Linked DNA regions of Homo sapiens: all the other regions are linked to region 3. Evidence: fine-mapped expression QTL. A gene starts in region 3. Each other region holds a variant in brackets. All regions are shown on one strand. Distances are from middle to middle.

The links.
Region 1: its variant is fine-mapped to the expression of UNKL in whole blood (TOPMed, PIP above 0.99).
Region 2: its variant is fine-mapped to the expression of UNKL in whole blood (TOPMed, PIP above 0.99).

The regions. Positions count from the first base shown.
Region 1 is chr16:1,349,058-1,351,697 of GRCh38, reverse strand. BAIAP3 (BAI1 associated protein 3) reads right to left here. Exons shown (of 34, transcript NM_001199097.2): 34 at 2,259-2,640. TSR3 (TSR3 ribosome maturation factor) reads left to right here. Exons shown (of 6, transcript NM_001001410.3): 1 at 1-5; 2 at 100-319; 3 at 698-891; 4 at 1,464-1,640; 5 at 1,746-1,809; 6 at 2,090-2,458. The coding sequence ends at 2,261. Among named protein-coding and RNA genes, the nearest start is that of TSR3, 1.5 kb to the left of the region's middle. RefSeq lists a silencer at 1-242. The variant G/A (reference allele first, on the strand shown) is at 1,006.
Region 2 is chr16:1,366,760-1,369,425 of GRCh38, reverse strand. UNKL (unk like zinc finger) reads left to right here. Exons shown (of 15, transcript NM_001372107.1): 13 at 1,568-1,770; 14 at 2,077-2,334. Among named protein-coding and RNA genes, the nearest start is that of GNPTG, 16 kb to the right of the region's middle. The variant C/T (reference allele first, on the strand shown) is at 1,186.
Region 3 is chr16:1,413,519-1,416,184 of GRCh38, reverse strand. It overlaps UNKL (unk like zinc finger), which reads left to right and starts at 1,481. Exons shown (of 15, transcript NM_001372107.1): 1 at 1,481-1,570; 2 at 2,130-2,339. The coding sequence starts at 1,494. RefSeq lists enhancers at 282-855, 856-1,430, 1,431-2,005, 2,006-2,580 and silencers at 1,077-1,146, 1,197-1,316, 1,857-1,906, 2,337-2,486.

The DNA of each region.
Region 1 (2,640 bases), 64 kb after region 3:
GCAGGGTGAGCGAGGCGTGATGGGGAGAGCGGGTCAGGGTTTGAGGGCCTGCCCGGGGGTCCCACGCTGAGGCCGAGTGCCCTTCTCTCTCTCGTGCAGCTTCCGTGGAGCCAGGGGCGGCTGACGGCGAGGGCGGCCCGGGCCCGGCGGCGCTGCCCTGCACGCTGGCCATGTGGGAGTTGGGCCACTGCGACCCCCGGCGCTGCACGGGCCGCAAGCTGGCCCGCCTGGGGCTGGTGCGCTGCCTGCGCCTGGGCCACAGATTCGGCGGTCTGGTGCTGAGCCCCGTGGGCAAGCAGTACGCGTCCCCCGCAGACAGGTAGGCGCGGGAGGCCTGCCCGAGGTCGTCTTCATTTCCAGCGCGTGGTTCCCTTCAGGGATGGTTTAGTGGCACTTGTATGTCGCACCCACATCCACACCCACGTGGGCAGGGAACGTCTGTCTAGTTTGCCTCCGTTGCGTAGCGCAGAGCCTGGGATAAAGGAGGTTTTGGGGTAATAAACGTTTGTTGAGTGAATAAACACATGCTCCAGGTGCCCCAAGCAGCTGCCTCAAAAGCTTGCTCGTGAAGTCCGTTTGAGGGTGTTTGGGGATGGCGGAATGATGTCCCTGAATCCCTTAGCTAGGCCATTCTCCGGGGCATGCTCCACCTTGGGTAGTGCTGGCTCCTGAACTTATCCCATGCTGTCCCTGGCAGACAGCTGGTGGCGCAGTCTGGGGTCGCCGTCATCGACTGCTCCTGGGCCAGGCTGGACGAGACACCGTTTGGGAAGATGCGAGGGAGCCACTTGCGCCTGTTGCCCTACCTGGTGGCCGCCAACCCCGTGAACTATGGCCGGCCCTACAGACTTTCCTGCGTGGAAGCGTTTGCTGCCACCTTCTGCATCGTAGGTGAGTCCAGGGGCCCCACAGCAGTGTGACCCGGCGGCCTGCTGTTCCTGCTATGCTCCCAGCATCATGTTTCCTGCCGACAGACCCCAGGAGGAGCATAAGGGACGGACAGGG[G/A]AACAGTTCAGACAGACCACGGTTCCAGCCCCAACTGTCACTTCAGGTTTTCGGCCTGTGGAGTTGCAGTAGAGGCAGAATGGGATCGCTGTTCTATCAGGGCCGGTGTGTGGGGTGCCATTCATTATCAGGGCACCACTGCCCAGAGAATCCTCCTTATCCTCCACGTCCTCCTTACTGAATTGCTGATCTAAAGAGGCCCTGATGAGGCGTGGGGCAGTCTTGGTGGGAATGTTTGTTTCGCAGCAAAGGAGGGGGACTTGGTCGGTTGCAGAGGTGTGGACTGTAGCAAGGGAGGTGCAGGCTGGGGGCAGCACGGGTTCTCAGGACTGTGAGCTGATGTTTGCTGGGGACCCTGCGGTTACTTGGGAGAGCGCCGCCATCCGGCAGCAGGGTGATCAGGAGGCACTTGAGGGGACCGTCGACTTCTTTGGGTTTCCTGTTTCTCACACCGTCAGGCTTTCCAGACCTTGCTGTCATTTTGCTGCGGAAGTTTAAATGGGGCAAGGGCTTCTTGGACCTGAACCGCCAGCTCCTGGACAAGTACGCGGCCTGCGGCAGCCCGGAGGAGGTGCTGCAGGCGGAGCAGGAGTTCTTGGCCAATGCCAAGGAGAGCCCCCAGGAGGAGGAGATCGGTGAGCCTTGGCGGGGTGGGAACCAAGGCCCTCCAAAGCCTGGGGGGTGGGAGGCCTGGTCCTGCTCTGAGCTCACTTAGAGGCCACTTTCCTCTCTCGGCTCAGATCCCTTCGATGTGGATTCAGGGAGAGAGTTTGGAAACCCCAACAGGCCTGTGGCCAGCACCCGGTAGGTCCTTGGGCTTAATTTCATGATCACTCAGACCCAGGGCTCTCTTCTACCTCTGGCCTGAGCCCTTCCTGCTGCCTGGGGGTGGTGTTGTAAACAACACCCCGATGGTCTTCTGACTAGAAAACCTGCAGTGCATGTCCCACTGGAGAGGTTTGGGTGTGGAGAGCACAGGGAGGAAGAGGAATCTGTCCTCGGCTGGGGGCTTTTTGTGGATGACGTTGACTCCAGCTAGCCAGGGAGGACGTCATTTGGGAACGTGCTCCCCCTCCTCTCCCAGGCTGCCCTCGGACACTGATGACAGTGATGCGTCTGAGGACCCAGGGCCTGGCGCCGAGCGCGGAGGAGCCAGCAGCAGCTGCTGTGAAGAGGAGCAGACGCAGGGACGGGGGGCTGAGGCCAGGGCCCCGGCTGAGGTTTGGAAAGGAATCAAGAAACGGCAGAGAGACTGAGGGTTGCAGACACATATATTTTTGAGGCTGGGTGACGAGAAAATCTAGAGACATGAGGGACATAAATGGGCCTGGCAGCCTCGGCTCTTTGCGGCTGCTGGCAGGACTGAGCTGTCCGGGTTCTCCCCACACTTCCAGCACAGCTGTGCTCTGTGTCCTGCCTCGGCGCTCTCGCAAATGAAGCTGCAGGCCAAGAAGCCCCTTGTGAGTCTGTTTTTCACACTGGGCCTGGGGAAGGGTTGGGGCGAACTCTCGGCTCTGCCTGGAAGGGTCGTGGAGCAGGTCTCAGGTGGCCACGGATATGTGCGTGAAGGACAGCTGACCAGTTGGCACGGAGCCCTTCACACTGACCACCAGCCTTGGGTGACGTCCCTGGCCT
Region 2 (2,666 bases), 47 kb after region 3:
TATGCTCCAGCCTGGGCAACAAGAGTGAAACTCCATCTCAAAAAAAAAAAAGAGAAAAAGGCCCGGCGTGGTGGCTCACGCCTGTCATCCCAGCACTTGGGGCGCCGAGGTGGGCGGATCACGACGTCAGGATATCGAGACCATCCTGGCCAACATGGTGAAACCCCGTCTCTACTAAAAATACAAAAATTAGGCGGGCGTGGTGGCACATGCCTGTAATCCCAGCTACTTGGGAGGCTAAGGCAGGAGAATCGCTTGAACCCGGGAGTCGGAGGTCGCAGTGAGCTGAGATTGTGCCACTGCACTCCAATCCAGCCTGGCGATAGAGCTAGACTCCATTTCAAAAAAAAAAAAAAAAAAAAAAAAAAAACTAATACTTTGGGCCAACATAGTGGCTCAAGCCTGTAATCCCAGCACTTTGGGAGGTCGAGGTGGGTGGTCACTTGAGGCCAGGGGTTCAAGACCAGGCTAGGCACCATAGTGAGACTCCTGAGTCTACAAAAAAATACAAAATTTTAAAAGTTTTTATTTTTTTAAAACAAAGTTTCACTCTGTCGTCCAGGCTCCAGCAATCTTGGCTCACTGCAGCCTCTGCCTTCCGGGTTAAAATGATTGTCATGTCTCAGCCTCCCGAGTAGCTGGGATCACAGGTACCTGCTACCACGCCAGGCTAATTTTTGTATTTTTAGTAGAGATGGAGTTTCACCATGTTGGCCATACTGGTCTCAAACTCCTGACCTCAAGTGATCTGCTGGCCTCGACCTCCCAAAGTGCTGGGATGACAGGCCTGTTTTTTTTTTTTTTTTTTTTTTTTTTTGAGACGGAGTCTCATTCTGTCGCCCAGGCCGGACTGCGGACTGCAGTGGCGCAATCTCGGCTCACTGCAAGCTCCGCTTCCCGGGTTCACGCCATTCTCCTGCCTCAGCCTCCCGAGTAGCTGGGACTACAGGCGCCCGCCACCACGCCTGGCTAATTTTTTGTATTTTTAGTAGAGACGGGGTTTCACCTTGTTAGCCAGGATGGTCTCGATCTCCTGACCTCATGATCCACCCGCCTCGGCCTCCCAAAGTGCTGGGATTACAGGCGTGAGCCACCGCGCCCGGCCTGTTTTTTTTAAGTAACATTTAAACTATTTCAGTCATAGTCTCTAAAGCTGCATAGACATTGGCAGTCACCACATGGACA[C/T]AGCTCTGTGGGGTCTTTGAGAGTCTCAGTGTGTGAGGGGTTCCTGGGAGTGGAGTCTGAGAACCACTGCCCCTCCCACCTCATGGTGTGGTCCCAGGAACTTGAATTTAATTCCTCTCTGTTTAGACTCCTCAGGTGGCCAGGAAGGCGTAGATCTGGTGGGGAGACCGGCCGGGGCAGGTGTCACTGTCAGCGCCTCTTCCTGAGCCTGGTGGGGTCCAGGAGTGGGGCAAGGGGCAGGCGTGGCTGCACCCCTGCTGCCAGGGCAGGTGAGCCCCAGAGGGTGCCCACGTAGCGGTGGGGCCTGGGGCATAGCACCCACCAATCCCACCAGGCCGCGAGCACAGCAGGGCTGGGCCGTCATCGACCGTTTCACACTCAGGTTTGAACGGTGTCCCCGGGAGCATCTGGGACTTTGTTTCCGGCAGCTTCTCCCCCAGCCCCTCCCCCATCCTGAGTGCCGGCCCCCCATCCTCTTCGAGTGCAAGTCCAAACGGAGCTGAGCTGGCCCGGGTCAGGCGGCAGCTGGACGAGGCCAAGAGGAAGATCCGGCAGTGGGAGGAGTCCTGGCAGCAGGTGAAGCAGGTGAGTGTGTGGGGGGGCCAGACAGGTGAGGGGGAGGGAGGGCCGCAGGGGACTCAGGTGAGCGTGTGGGGGTGAGATGGGAGGGGAGGGAGGGAGGGCCGCAGGTGACTCAGGTGAGCGTGTGGGGGGTGAGACGGGAGGGGGAGGGAGGGAGGGAGGGAGGGAGGGAGGGCCGCAGGGGTCTCAGGTGAGGGGGCCACAGCTGATGCTGGGGAGGGGAGGGGAGGATCGCTGGTGACACAGGCAAGAGGGTCTGCAGGTGGCACAGGTGAGGTGGGGGGTGCTGAGACGGGCCCTGGGTTTCAGGTCTGCGATGCCTGGCAGCGAGAGGCGCAGGAGGCCAAGGAGCGTGCCCGTGTGGCCGATAGCGACCGGCAGCTGGCGCTGCAGAAGAAGGAGGAGGTGGAGGCACAGGTGAAGCAGCTGCAGGAGGAGCTGGAGGGCCTGGGCGTAGCCTCCACACTGCCGGGGCTGCGGGGCTGTGGGGACATCGGCACCATTCCCCTGCCGAAGCTGCACTCGCTGCAGAGTCAGCTGCGCCTGGACCTGGAGGCGGTGGACGGCGTGAGTCCTGCTCTGGGCAGGGTGAGGGGCCAGCCTGCCTGCAGGGCTGCTGTCCCTGTCTGGGGAGGGCCCTGGCTGGTGCGGTGTCCCCTTCCTCCCCTGCCCCAGGGTCTGCTCCGGGCCTAGGGAGGAGGAGACGGTGCCCCACCCCAGCACAGCCCCCTGTGGCCTCCTTGCCTGTCTCCCTGGGAGCCGCCTTTCCTGTCAGGCTGGCCCTTGCCCTTTCACCCCTCCCTCTTGTCAGCGAATGCCACACTGCTCCCCGTGGCCCCATCCCTCCCTGTTCACAGCTGTGACCCTCACACATGACCCCTCCACTTCGGCGTGCCCCT
Region 3 (2,666 bases):
CTTCCTCCCCCCGCCCCCCGCCAAAAGAAAAAGAAAATGTGAACCTATGAAGAAATTTATCCTACCAGCAAATGATAGTTTTTGTTGTTTTACAGTATTAATATTAAAAAAAACCCTGAGATACTTGGAACAAATCTGTAGGAAGTGATTTGCTTTCAACCTAAATGGGCCCATTTTTCTTTTCGTTTTTTTTTTTTTTTTTTTTTTTTTTTTTTGAGACGGAGTCTCGCTCTGTTGCCCAGGCTGGAGTGCAGTGGCGCGATCTCGGCTCACTGCAAGCTCCGCCTCCTGGGTTCAAGTGATTCTCCTGCCTTAGCCTCCTGAGTAGCTGGGACTACAGGTGCCCACCACCACGCCCGGGTAATTTTTTTTTTTTTTTTTGTATTTTTAGTAGAGACGGGGTTTCACCGTGTTAGCCAGGATGGTCTCGATCTTCTGACCTCGTGATCCGCCCACCTCGGCCTCTCAAAGTGCAGGGATTATAGGCGTGAGCCACCGCGCCCGGCCAATGGGCACATTTTTCATATCACTAAAAATTTCTTTTTTATTTTTTGAGACAGGGTGTTACTCTGTCACCCAGGCTGGAGTGCAGTGGCGCAATCTCGGCTCACTACTAAACCTCCGCCTCCCGGGTTCACGCCATTCTCCTGCCTCAGCCTCCGGAGTAGCAGGAATTACAGGCGCAAGCCACCACACCCCACTAATATTTTTGTATGTTTAGTAGAGACGGGGTTTCACTGTTGGCCAAGCTGTTGTCAAACTCCCGAACTCAGCTGATCCGCCGGCCTCGGCCTCCCAAAGTGCTGGGATTACAGGCGTGAGACACCGCGCCCGGCCTCCTACCACTAAAAATTCTTCGGAAGCACTGTTTCAAATCACGCAGAGCACTTAGAGTTTTCCCTTTTCTCAGCTACTGCGCTGTTGGGGGAAGGGGGACCTCAAGTGTTTGCAAAATAACTGTGATAATTACCTTTGTAGATAAATCTCTGAGTATAAGTTTTTGAGGTCAAGGTTCGAAATGGAACAAATTCCTTTCTACAAAGGCCAGGACCCCTTGGCCCTTCCGCCCGGTGCCTGGCTCCCCCTGACATCAGCCTCTTGGTTCGTTTGTGGAAGAGCAGCTCTATTGAGATACAACTCTTGTGATTAATTCATGTAAAATACACGGTTATGTCGGGTCATGTCACAGCAGGGGCGACCATCGCGGGTCCCACGCGCGGCCCCGGGCAGGACCAGCGTCCCGGGCCGGGGGCTGCAGGGCAGGGCAGGGCAGGGCAGGGCAGGGCAGGGCAGGGCAGGGCAGGGCGGGGCGCGGGGCTGGGGCGGGGTCTGCGGGCCGGGGGCGGGGCTGCGGGGGGCGCGGGGCTGGGGCGGGGCCGGGGTCTGCGGGCTGGGGGCGGGGCCGCGGGGGGCGTGGCCGCGGGGGCGCGCGGGGATATCCGGGGGCGGGGGCGCCGGCGCGGCGCATGCGCGCTGCATTGTTTTGACTGAAAATGCCGTCGGTTTCGAAAGCGGCGGCAGCGGCGCTGAGCGGGTCCCCCCCGCAGACTGAGAAGCCGACCCACTACAGGTCAGCGCCCGTCCGGCCTGCGGCCCCCCGCCCGCGCCCGGTGCAGCTCGGAGCCTCCCGCCGGGGCTCGCGCCGCCTCCGCCGCCCCCGCGCCCCCCGGCCTCCGCGCAGCGCCTGGGCTGGGGGGGCCACGACCCTCTGCTCTCGGCGGCCTCCGCCTGAGGTCGGAGCGCGGCGCCCATGGTCTGGGATGGCACCTGGTTCCGGGGTCCACGCGCCTCTGGGGAGGGAGGAACGCCCCGGGGTTGGGGGTTGCGCCTGGGCTCGGGGACCGGGACCCTCTGCTCCGGCTGCCGACCGTGAGGTCACAGCGGGTCGCCCAGGGTCCGGGGTGGCGCTTGGGCTTGGGGACCAGGGTCAGCGCCTGGGCTACGAGGTCGGGTGAGGGTCGCGTCTGGAGTCGGGATGGGGGTGGGCGCAGCGCCTGGGGCCCGCCGGGAATGTGAGTACGGGTCGACCCTGGGTTGAGGCTCCTGAGGCCGGTGGGTCCCGCCGCCCACGAGTCCGAGTCCCTGGAGGTGCTGCCGGAAGCGAGCCGCGGCGCTGTCTGTGTTTGTAGGTACCTGAAGGAGTTCAGGACGGAGCAGTGCCCCCTGTTTTCACAGCACAAGTGCGCGCAGCACCGGCCGTTCACCTGCTTCCACTGGCACTTCCTCAACCAGCGGCGCCGCAGGCCCCTCCGCAGGCGCGACGGCACCTTCAACTACAGCCCCGACGTGTACTGCTCCAAGTACAACGAAGCCACCGGCGTGTGCCCCGACGGCGACGAGTAAGCGGCCGCGAGGGGGCGCCGCTGCCTGGGCGGAGGTGGGGGGCCTCCACCCGGGGATGCGGCCGGGACCCTCAGCGGACGCCTTAGTGTCCATACCTGGCCCCTGCAGAGGGAGTCGTAATTATACGCTGAAATTTTCTAGTGACCAGGGATGCTGGGGCGGCATTTCCTATTCTCAGGCCAGTTCCCGAGGGATTATGTGTGTTTTAGGGGTAACCCTTGTGTGACTCAAACCAATTTTGCTTCACCTCCCACTTTTTTTTGTTTGTTTTTTGAGACGGAGTTTCACTCTTGTTGCTCTGGCTGGAGTGCAATGGCATGATC